Linked DNA regions of Homo sapiens: region 1 is linked to region 2. The links come from fine-mapping of genetic effects on gene expression. A gene starts in region 2. The other region holds a variant in brackets. All regions are shown on one strand. Distances are between the middles of the regions. Region 1 overlaps SREBF2 (sterol regulatory element binding transcription factor 2). Region 2 holds the start of TNFRSF13C (TNF receptor superfamily member 13C).

Region 1 (5,512 bases), 75 kb after region 2:
TGTGCTCATGATGTTTTAGTTCAAGGCTATGTTTTTAACTTTTAAAAAACTTTGCTATATTACACATAGTAAGTTTTTTTTTTTTTTTTAATGCTGCACATGCCTGTTGGTCCAGCTACACGGGAGGCTAAGATGGGAGGATCGCTTGAACCTAGGAATTCAAGGTCGGCCTAGGCAACAAAGTGAGACAAGGTCACTAAATAAATAAATTTTATTTTATTATTTTTTGAGACAGAGTCTCACTCTGTCGCCCAGGCTGGAGTGCAGTGGTGTGATCTCAGCTCACTGCAGCCTCTGGCTCCACCTCCGCCTCCCACGTTCAAGCAATTCTCAAGCCTCAGGCTCCTGAGTAGCTGGCATTACAGGCACGTACCACCAAACCCGGCTAATTTTTGTATTTTCAGTTGAGACCGGGTTTCACCATGTTGGCCAGGCTGGTCTTGAACTCCTGGCCTCAAGTGATCTGCCCGCCTCAGCCTCCCAAAGTGCTGGGATTATAGGAATGAGCCACCACCCCCGGATTCTAAATAAATAAATCTTAAAGATGTTTTTCTTATGTCTTGTGTTCTATGAGTGCATGGAGAAAATGTTCCTTTCCCTGTACCGCTTCAAGCACCAAGCATACTGGTATTAAAAAACAAAAGCCAGGCCGGGCATGGTGGTTCACCCCTGCAATCTCAGCACTTTGGGAGGCCGAGGCGGGTGGATCACCTGAGGTCAGGAGTTCGAGACTAGCCTGGCCAACATGGTGAAACCCCATCTCTACTAAAAATATAAAAATTATCTGAGTGTGGGGGTGGGTGCCTGTAATCCCAGCTACTCGGAAGGCTGAGGCAGTTATCACTTGAACCTGGGAGGCAGGGGTTGCAGTGAGTCGAGATCGCGCCACTGCACTCCAGCCTGGGTGGCAAGAGTGAAACGCCATCTCAAAACAAAAACAAAAACAAAAAAACACAAAACACAAAACAACAACAACAAAAAAACTGGCACTGACTCACTGAAATGCTCTCAATAGCAACTTTCATGCAACTTATAAAAATGGTGATCATGCTTTCTTCTTTTTTTTTTTTTTTTGAGATGGAGTCTCGCTCTGTCGCCCAGGATGGAGTGCAGTGGCGTGATCTCAGCTCACTGCAAGCTCCGCCTCCCGGGTTCACGCCATTCTCCTGCCTCAGCCTCCCGAGTAGCTGGGACTACAGGCGCCCGCCACCACGCCCAGCTAATTTTTTGTATTTTTAGTAGAGACGGGGTTTCACCGTGTTAGCCAGGATGGTCTTGATCTCCTGACCTTGTGATCCACCTGCCGCGGCCTCCCAAAGTGCTGGGATTACAGGCGTGAGCCACTGCACCTGACCGATCATGCTTTCTGAACCAGAAACTAGAAGGGATGTTTCACCTCATAATGGAATAAGATATTTTTAAAAGTTAGACTAGCCTGGAAAATCTGGACAGATCTATGTAATTTCTGCAAAGCTTTCACTTTTAGGGAGGTAAGTATGTAAATACAGAAGGATTTCAACGGGTTAAGCATCCACTGTGTACCAGGCACAGAGATAATAAATTAGTCCTTGACCTCAAAGAGTTAGTGAAAGGATCACAATATGGTTTGTGAAGATTGTCACAGCAGAGATGTGCATCTGCAAGACACCAAAGAGACACAGGGAACATGACAAAATCACAGAATCCAGCAAGTCAATAGTTCCCTGAAGGAGTTGGATTGAAGGCTGATCAGGATGCAAAGTACAGTCTAGGCCAGGGAACCTCAAGAGCCAAGGCAGGGAGACATGGAGCTGCATGATAGGTTGTTGAAGACAATGGGTGATGGGCAGGGCACCATACTGGGCAAGTTGTTAGGGGCCAAAGCACAAAGGGCCCTACAACTCATGGTGGTGAAATGAAAAAATGAAGGAGAACTCATAGCAAGTTGTCCCACAATGCTCTAAGAAGGAGAGCTCCTCCAGCCCAGCAGTTGCTCATTCTGGTTTACATGGGGTTGAGGAGGCAGAGGCTGCTGTCCTGCCTAGAACTCCAAAATATCATGAACTAATTAAGAATCACTGGCCGGGCACAGTGGCTCATGCCTGTAATCCCAGCACTTTGGGACGCCAAGGCGGGTGGATCACTTGAGGTCAGGAGTTCGAGACAAGCCTGGCCAACATGGTGAAACCCCGTCTCTACTAAAAATAAAAAAATTAGCTGGGCATGGTGGCACATGCCTGCAGCTACTTGGGAGGCTGAGGCAGAAGAATCACCTGAACCCAGGAGGTGGAGGGTGCAGTGAGCTGAGACTGTGCCACTGCACTCCAGCCTAGGCAAAAAGAGCAAAAAGAGCAAAACTCCATCTACCACAAAAAAAAAAAAAAAAAAAAAAAAAAAAAAATCATTCTGAGAGTATGAGAATGGCTGGAATAAAAAGTCAGTCAGATAACTTCATCAATTGATGAAGAAGCTGAGAATTTTCTGAAAACTGGTTAAATAAGAGTTTTGGTTATAAATATGGCCCAAAAAGTGACCAAAACTGGGAAACAGGTCATCTCCCATGGCCTGTAGGGTTCAGGGTTTCAGATGAAAGTCAGGAGAGGAAAAAACAAAAAAATAAAAAAAGAGTGACAAGGGATCAGATTTAAGGAGAAAGGCAAGATGTCAAAAAGCTAAACCAAGGCCCGTTTTGCAAGGCCAAACTGAATGGAGATGTCACGATTAAATTCAAAGAGAAGTGGCTGTGACTCCAATAATGTAATCACTGTGCTATCTTTGAAAAATTAATTAATTTCCTTGAGACTCAGTTACTTAATTGTAAATATGGGAATAATCCAAACTGATGGATATATATCAATACACAGAAAAATACATCAAGCA[C/T]ATAATAAAATGTATTTAATTTTTTCACTTTTTTTTTCTGGTTTTTTCCTTCCTCCCTCCCTGCCTCCCTCCCTCCTTCACTCCCAGGCCAGGTCCCCATAGGTTTGCCTTTTGTTTGTTTGTTTGTTTGAGATGGAGTCTCTCTCTATCGCCCAGGCTGGAGTGCAGTGGCACAATCTCTGCTCACTGCAAGCTCCACCTCCCGGGTTCACACCATTCTCCTGCCTCAGCCTCCCAAGTAGCTGAGACTACAGGCATCCGCTACCATGCCCGGCTAATTTTTCGTATTTTTTAGTAGAGACGGGGTTTCACCGTGTTAGCCAGGATGGTCTTGATCTCCTGACCTTGTGATCCACCCCCCTTGGCCCCACAAAGTGCTGGGATTACAGGCGTGAGCCACCGCGCCCGGCCGCTTTGTTTTTTTTTTAAAGTGTCTTTAGAAGCAAGGCCTTATTGGCTGGGTGCGGTGGCTCATGCCTGTAATACCAGCACTTTGGGAGGCCGAGGCGGGTGGATCACCTGCAGTCAGGAGTTCAAGATCAGCCTGGCCAACAGGGTGAAACCCTCTCTCTACTTAAAATACAAAAAATCAGCTGGGCGTGGTGGTACGCACCTGTAATCCCAGCTACTTGGAAGGCTGAGGCAGGAGAATCGCTTGAACCCGGGAGGTGGAGGTTGCAGTGAGGCGAGATCGCGCCATTGCACTCCAGACTGGGGGACAAGAGCAAGACTTCATCTCAAAAAAACAAACAAACAAACAAAAAGACTAAAAGAAGCAGGGCCTTACTATGTTGCCCAGGAGAGTCTCAAATTCCTGGACTCAAGTGATCCTCCTGCCTCAGGCTCCCAAGCAGCCCAGACCATGCCGACTTTCCATAGTTTTTTTTTTTAAACATAAATTTAAAAAGGGGAAAATCCCCAGGTTAGATTCCAATTAAACCTTTGAATAAAAGCCAGTGGTTGCACTATTGATATTTAAGAACAAAACCAATGAAGTGACAAAGCTAATAAACTTATTTTCTGGGTAGAAAGCATATTTATATTTTATTTACAGAATAAATATTACCAGTACAGAAGGTAATATTACTGAAATTAAATTCATTCATGTCCTCCATGAGGACAACATAAAAGTAGCTACCACTGATACCCACTTAGTACGTTATATCAACCCTGAGACCAATATTATTATGTTTTAAAAGTGAGGAAACTGGCCGGGCTTGGTGGCTCACGCCTGTAATCCCAGCACTTTGGGAGGCCGAGGTGGGCGGATCACTTGAGGTCAGGAGTTCAAGACCAGCCTGGCCAACATGGTGAAACCCCATCTCTACCAAAAATACAAAAATTAGCTGGGCGTGGTGGTGGGCACCTGTAATCCGAGCTACTCGGGAGGCTGAGGCAGGAGAATCACTTGAACCCTGGAGGCAGAGGTTGCAGTGAGCCAAGATCTCTCCACTGTACTCCAGCCCAGGGGACAGAGGCTATCTCAAAAAAAACAAAAAGAAAGAAAAAAGTGAGGAATCTAAGATTCAAAGAAATTAGATAATTTGCCAAAGCCCCCTACATAAGCTACAAAGTGGCTGAACTGAGATTTGAATTTATATCTATATTTAGGTTTGTCTGAGTCTCTCCTCTACCCACACTTTTTTCCCCTTACAAAATAAACATTTCTTGGATTTTACATTTATGCTCATCACAACTTGGGGAAAAGCTGTAAGACAGACTCGGAGTGACAACAAAGGAGATTTGGGGCTGTGTGGAGGGGCACTTAGGTAATCATGTCATTACTTTTTTTTTTTTTTTGAGATGGAGTCTCGCTCTGTTGCCAGGCTGGAGTGCAGTGGCACCATCTCGGCTCACTGCAGCCTCCGCCTCCCTGGTTCTGAAGTGATTCTCCTGCCTCACCCTCCTGAGTAGCTGGGACTACAGGTGCCCGCCACCACACCTGGCTAATTTTTGGTATTTTTAGTAGAGACAGGGTTTCACCATGTTAGCCAGGATGGTCTTGATCTCCTGCCCTTGTGATCCACCTGCCTCGGCCTCCCAAAGTGCTGGGATTACAGGCGTAAGCCACGGCGCCCAGCCCCATCTCATTACTTTCTTTTTTTCTTTTGAGACGGAGTCTCACTCTGTCACCCAGGCTAGAGTGCAGTGGGGTAATCTCGGCTCACTGCAAACTCCGCCTCCCAGGTTAAAGCGATTCTCTCGCCTCAGCCTCCCGAGTAGCTGGGACTACAGGTGTGTGCCACTACGCCCGGCTAATTTTTTGTATTTTTTTAACAGAGATGGGGTTTCACCATGTTAGTCAGGATGGTCTCGATCTCCTGACCTCGTGATCCACCCACCTCCGCCTCCCAAAGTGCTGGGATTACAGGCGTGAGTCACCAAGCCCGGCCCATCTTATTACTTTCAATGTTCATTTCAATGCTGATGGAAGATCAATCTCAGGGTGAACATGTATGTAATGGACGCATCAAGGGGAATGGGGAAAAGGTATTTTTGACTGGCTGTATTTTACAAGTATACCTTCCTATCCAAATTATTAAATTATTCTTCAAATGAGACCATATGCCTTGACAAGATGCTGTTTTCTAGAACAATCTCTCTCTTTTTAAGTATACATTTTAATAAAAGATACATCCCTTAAGACACGCAT
Region 2 (5,028 bases):
CTCGAGTCTCTGCTGGGGGTCAGAGCAGCCAGTGCTTCTGCTGTGAAACGCAGACCTGGGGCAGGCGGACCCCCTCCTCCTAACTCCTGTAAATTCTCCCGACTCTGGCCTCACTGGGCCACCCTCTCCAGGGACAGGTTCCCCGTTCCTGGGTTCCCACAAGCCTCAGTCTGCCCACATGGCTGGCACAAGGGCTAAATGAGCTGCCTGGTACTCAGTCAGGCCTCTGCAGCCCTCACTAATGGGTAATACCAGCACCAACATGGATGGACGTGTATGTGGGTGGCAGGGTTATGGCTCAGTCTTCTGGCTTTGTCCCCACCTCTCTGCCTCACAGAGAGGCCTTCCCTGCCCTGGCTCCCCTCCAGGGTCCTGTCCCCCATCCCTGTACCGTACACCCACGCTCACCCACACCTGCCCCCACCCCCACATCACCATACACCCACGCTCACCCACACCTGCCCCCAGCCCCACTTCTCCTTTGCAGCTCCCCTCCGCCCACACCTTCCTGCCTGGGAGCTGCTGGCCCATGTACAGGGGATGGAGAGGGTGGGCCAGCGCCCACCAGTCAGGGCTGGCTGACTGGGGTTCTTTGTGAACCTTCAGGGTCTCCCAAGCTGGAAACCTGGGGGTCGGCCTTGCTCCCCTCACTCCATGGCCAGCCGCTGCATCATCCCCTGCCCTGGGCCACCTGCCCTGGACGTGGGCCACAGTGCCAGAGAGAGGGACCCTTGCAGGTACAGCTCAGAATCTCCCTCCTACCCAGACACCCCCAGGTTCTGTACTGCCCCGGGACTGGTGCCCTGCCCATCCGCAGCCCGGATGCTCCCTCCTCCCTCCCAGCATCCCCTGTGGCAGTGGCCATGCCTGCCCCCAGAGCAGCTCAGGCTCCCCTTTCATCTCTCCAAGCCTTAGCCCCTGCAGCCCTCCGCCTGGAGTGTTTGCCTCCCCCTCGCTGCTGCTCAGGGTCTCCCTCTGCCCCCAGGCTCCCTCCCCAGCCCCTGAGTTTCTCCTCTCACTGTGCTTCCCCAGCCCTGAGTGCTTAGGGGTCTGGGTGGCATGTGTGGCATTTAACCCCATGCTCTCTGCTGAGCCCTGAGCTCCCAGAGTTCCCTCCAGCCCTGGCCCTGGGGAGGGGGTAGCATGTGACCAGGAGGGCGGAGGGGCTTGTGTGTGTTTCTGAGACGCAGTCTGAGAGAGACACGGGTGACAGACAGTTGGGGACCCCAAACACTGGGGAGCAGAGATAGACAGGAGGGGCCCGCAGTGAGACACAGAGGTGAGCAGGAGAGGACACATAGCCCTGGAGAAAAGGAGCAGGTGTGGGCGGGCTTCCCTCCACTGCAGTCACAGTTCCCTCACTCATAGGCAGATCTTCCTGGGTCCTCCCTGCACAAAGCCCCAGTGGCTCCCTCGTGTCCCCCAGCCACAGTCCAAGCTCCCTAATGTGCTAGATAAGGCCCCAGTCCAGCCTTTCGGTCCCAGCACTCCCTGGACTTCCTGTTTGGGCCTCCAAGCCTTTGCTCCCCTTTGGCCTTCACCCCCATCTGCTCCCTAGACCTCAGTCCATCTGGCAAACACTTCACCATCGCCCTCTCCATGAAGCCTTCCGGCCCACCTTCCAGGATGACGTGAGCTGGTGCCCTTGCTGCGAGGCTGTCTTCCCCCATCAGCACAAGTGTGAGATTCCCTCAGGGCAGACCCACATGCTACTTGGGCCTGGTACAAGTGTCTGATGTCAGGCTGGGCACTGTGGCTTCACACCTATAATCCCAGCACTTTGGGAGGCCGAGGAGGGCGGATCACCTGAGGTCAGGAGTTCGAGACCAGCCTGGCCAAATGGTGAAACCCCACCTCTACTAAAAATACAAAAATTAGCCGGGCATGGTGGTGCATGCCTGTAATCCCAGTTACTCGGGAGGCTGAGGCAGGAGAATCGCTTGAATCTGGGAGGCAGAGGTTGCAGTGAGCCGAGATTGCACCACTGCACAGAGCCAGACTCTTTTTCAAAAAAAAAAAAAAAAAAAGCAGGTGTCTGATATCCCCAACCAGCTCTGTCCAGGAAGGGCAGGAAGAGAGGAGGAGACAGGTGGGTTGGGGGAGATGGCAGGGGAGCACTCGGGGTCATGGAGAGGCTTTGGCTAGACGGAGCAGAGGAACCACTCAGGGTCTGTGTCCTGGCTGCGGGGTCCATCCCCCTCCCTACCCAAGAGGAGGCTCTGGTCTGCCCCCAGACACCTCCCAGCACCCAGCAGAGGGCCCACCCAGGCGGTGCTGGTTGAGGGGCTGAATTGGGGAACCACAGGTAGAAAGAGAGGCCAGGCCGGGTGCGGTGGCTCACGCCTGTAATCCTAGCACTTTGGGAGGCCGAGGCAGGTGGATCACGAGGTCAGGAGTTCAAAACCAGTCTGACCAAGATGGTGAAACCCCGTCTCTACTAAAAATACAAAAATTAGCCGGGCGTGGCAGTGGGCGCCTACAATCTCAGCTACTCGGGAGGCTGAGGCAGAGAATTGTTTGAACCCGGGAGGCAGAGCTTGCAGTGAGCCGAGATAGCGCCATTGCACTCCAGCCTGGGCGACAGAGCGAGACTCCGTCTCAAAAAAAAAAAAAGAAAAGAAAGGGGGGCCCCAGGCGAGCTCGGTCCCACCCAGCAGGCGGGGGCGGGGCAGGGCAGAGTGCTCCCCCCGCCCCCCGCTTCCTCCCCGAGGGCCCCGGAGCCCAGCTCAGCCTCAGTCCCCGCAGCTTGTGCGGCGGCGTCGGCACCATGAGGCGAGGGCCCCGGAGCCTGCGGGGCAGGGACGCGCCAGCCCCCACGCCCTGCGTCCCGGCCGAGTGCTTCGACCTGCTGGTCCGCCACTGCGTGGCCTGCGGGCTCCTGCGCACGCCGCGGCCGAAACCGGGTAAGGGGGACCCACGGGGCGCGCGGCGCCGGCAGCTGCGGGGAGAACGGGGCCCCGATCGCCAGGGCGCAGGCAGAGCCCCGACCCCCGGGGGCGCCGAGGGCTGAAAGGACCCTGTGGGCAGGGCCTGGAGGGGCCCGCGATCACCGCGTGGCCCTCACCGCCGCCTCTCTCCCTCCCCTTGTCCACCGCCCCCCGGCTGTCCCTCCCCTCCCCGGCCAGCCTCGCCCCCCTCCGCCCCTCCCCGTCCCCGCTCCTCCCTCCCCTCGGCCCCCTGGCCTCCCTCCCTGTCCCCTCCCGAAGCAGCCGGGGCCAGCAGCCCTGCGCCCAGGACGGCGCTGCAGCCGCAGGAGTCGGTGGGCGCGGGGGCCGGCGAGGCGGCGCTGCCCCTGCCCGGGCTGCTCTTTGGCGCCCCCGCGCTGCTGGGCCTGGCACTGGTCCTGGCGCTGGTCCTGGTGGGTCTGGTGAGCTGGAGGCGGCGACAGCGGCGGCTTCGCGGCGCGTCCTCCGCAGAGGCCCCCGACGGAGACAAGGACGGTGAGTTCCGTGTGTAGGGGAACCAGTCTGAGCGGGGCGCAGGGGCTGGGGTGTCGGGACGGTCTAGGGGGAGATGCATGGCCCCTGAGGGGGAGAGAAGGGCTTTAAGGGGAAACGGAGACAGAGTGGAAAAGAGTTTGCGCTGAGGAGCTCAGGCTGGGGAGGGAGACATAGTCCTGCCCCTGAGACCCTGGTCGGAGCCAGGAACAGCTCTGCCCTGACAGACCCCAGTGTGAGGAAGAGACAGGTTGCAGGAAGGGGGCCCCGTCTGAGGGAGGAGTCTGTCCTGCCCTTTGGGAGTCTAACGGAGCTTGGTTCCCCCATAAATCCCTGAAGAGTTTGCCAGACTGAGCCCCAGCTCCCCAACTCCCTGCCCTGCCAGCTCCCCACTGGCCAGGCCTCTGGACTCAGGGTCAGCCAGGTGCCACCCCTCCCCACCCTGCATTGGGCTTCATTTGACGGAGGACTGCCCCTCCAGAGGAGTCTTCTAGGGGAGGGAGGGAAGGCTGTGACTGAGTACGGAGCCTCTACCCCCTCTGCCTGCAGCCCCAGAGCCCCTGGACAAGGTCATCATTCTGTCTCCGGGAATCTCTGATGCCACAGCTCCTGCCTGGCCTCCTCCTGGGGAAGACCCAGGAACCACCCCACCTGGCCACAGTGTCCCTGTGCCAGCCACAGAGCTGGGCTCCACTGAACTGGTGACCACCAAGACGGCCGGCCCTGAGCAACAATAGCAGGGAGCCGGCAGGAGGTGGCCCCTGCCCTCCCTCTGGACCCCCAGCCAGGGGCTTGGAAATCAAATTCAGCTCTTCACTCCAGCATGCACATGCCCTCTTTCTGGGACCAGGCTAACTCTGCAGAAGCACAGACACTACAGACCACAGCATTCAGCCCCCATGGAGTTTGGTGTGCTTGCCTTTGGCTTCAGACCTCACCATCTTTGACAGCCCTTGAAGGTGGTAGCCCAGCTCCTGTTCCTGTGCCTTCAAAAGGCTGGGGCACTATGAGTAAAAGACCGCTTTTAAAATGGGGAAGGCACCATTAAGCCAAAATGAATCTGAAAAAAGACCAAGTGGGAGGATGCCTAATTTGTAGTTGGGTGGTTTTTTGTGTTTGTTTGATTTTTTTTTTTTTTTTTTTTTTTTTTTTTTGAGACGAGTCTTGCTCTGTCGCCAGGCTGGAGTACAGTGGCGCGATCTCGCCTCACTGTAACCTCCGACTCCTTGGTTCAAGTGATTCTCCTGCCTCAGCCTCCCGAATAGCTGGGATTACAGGCACGCACCACCACAGCCAGCTAATTTTTGTATTTTTAGTAGAGACGGGATTTCACCATGTTGGCCAGGATGGTCTCGATCTCCTGACCTCGTGATCCGCCCTGCTCGGCCTCCCAAAGTGCTGGGATTACAGGCATGAGCCACCATGCCCGGCCTTGTTTTGTGTTTTGGTTTTTTTTGAGACAGGGTCTTGCTGTATCACGCAGGCTGGAGTGCAACGATGGGTCCCCAGCTAATTGCAGCCTGGGCTCAAGCAATCTTTCTGCTTCAGCCTCCTGAGTAGGTGGGACTACAGGTGCTCCACCTTGCCCAGC

What was found. PIP is the estimated chance that this variant, and not a neighbour inherited with it, causes the effect.
Region 1: its variant is the best candidate, but not a certain one, in a credible set for the expression of TNFRSF13C in whole blood (INTERVAL, PIP 0.51).

Annotation. Positions count from the first base shown.
Region 1 is chr22:41,849,597-41,855,108 of GRCh38, reverse strand. All of the region lies in intron 1 of SREBF2 (sterol regulatory element binding transcription factor 2), which reads right to left. Among named protein-coding and RNA genes, the nearest start is that of SREBF2-AS1, 18 kb to the right of the region's middle. The variant C/T (reference allele first, on the strand shown) is at 2,860.
Region 2 is chr22:41,924,513-41,929,540 of GRCh38, reverse strand. It overlaps TNFRSF13C (TNF receptor superfamily member 13C), which reads left to right and starts at 2,735. Exons shown (of 3, transcript NM_052945.4): 1 at 2,735-2,903; 2 at 3,210-3,440; 3 at 3,987-5,028. The coding sequence starts at 2,768. The coding sequence ends at 4,174. It also overlaps a transcript of CENPM not described here. RefSeq lists enhancers at 1-125, 126-736, 880-949, 3,507-4,006, 4,007-4,508 and a silencer at 2,675-3,414.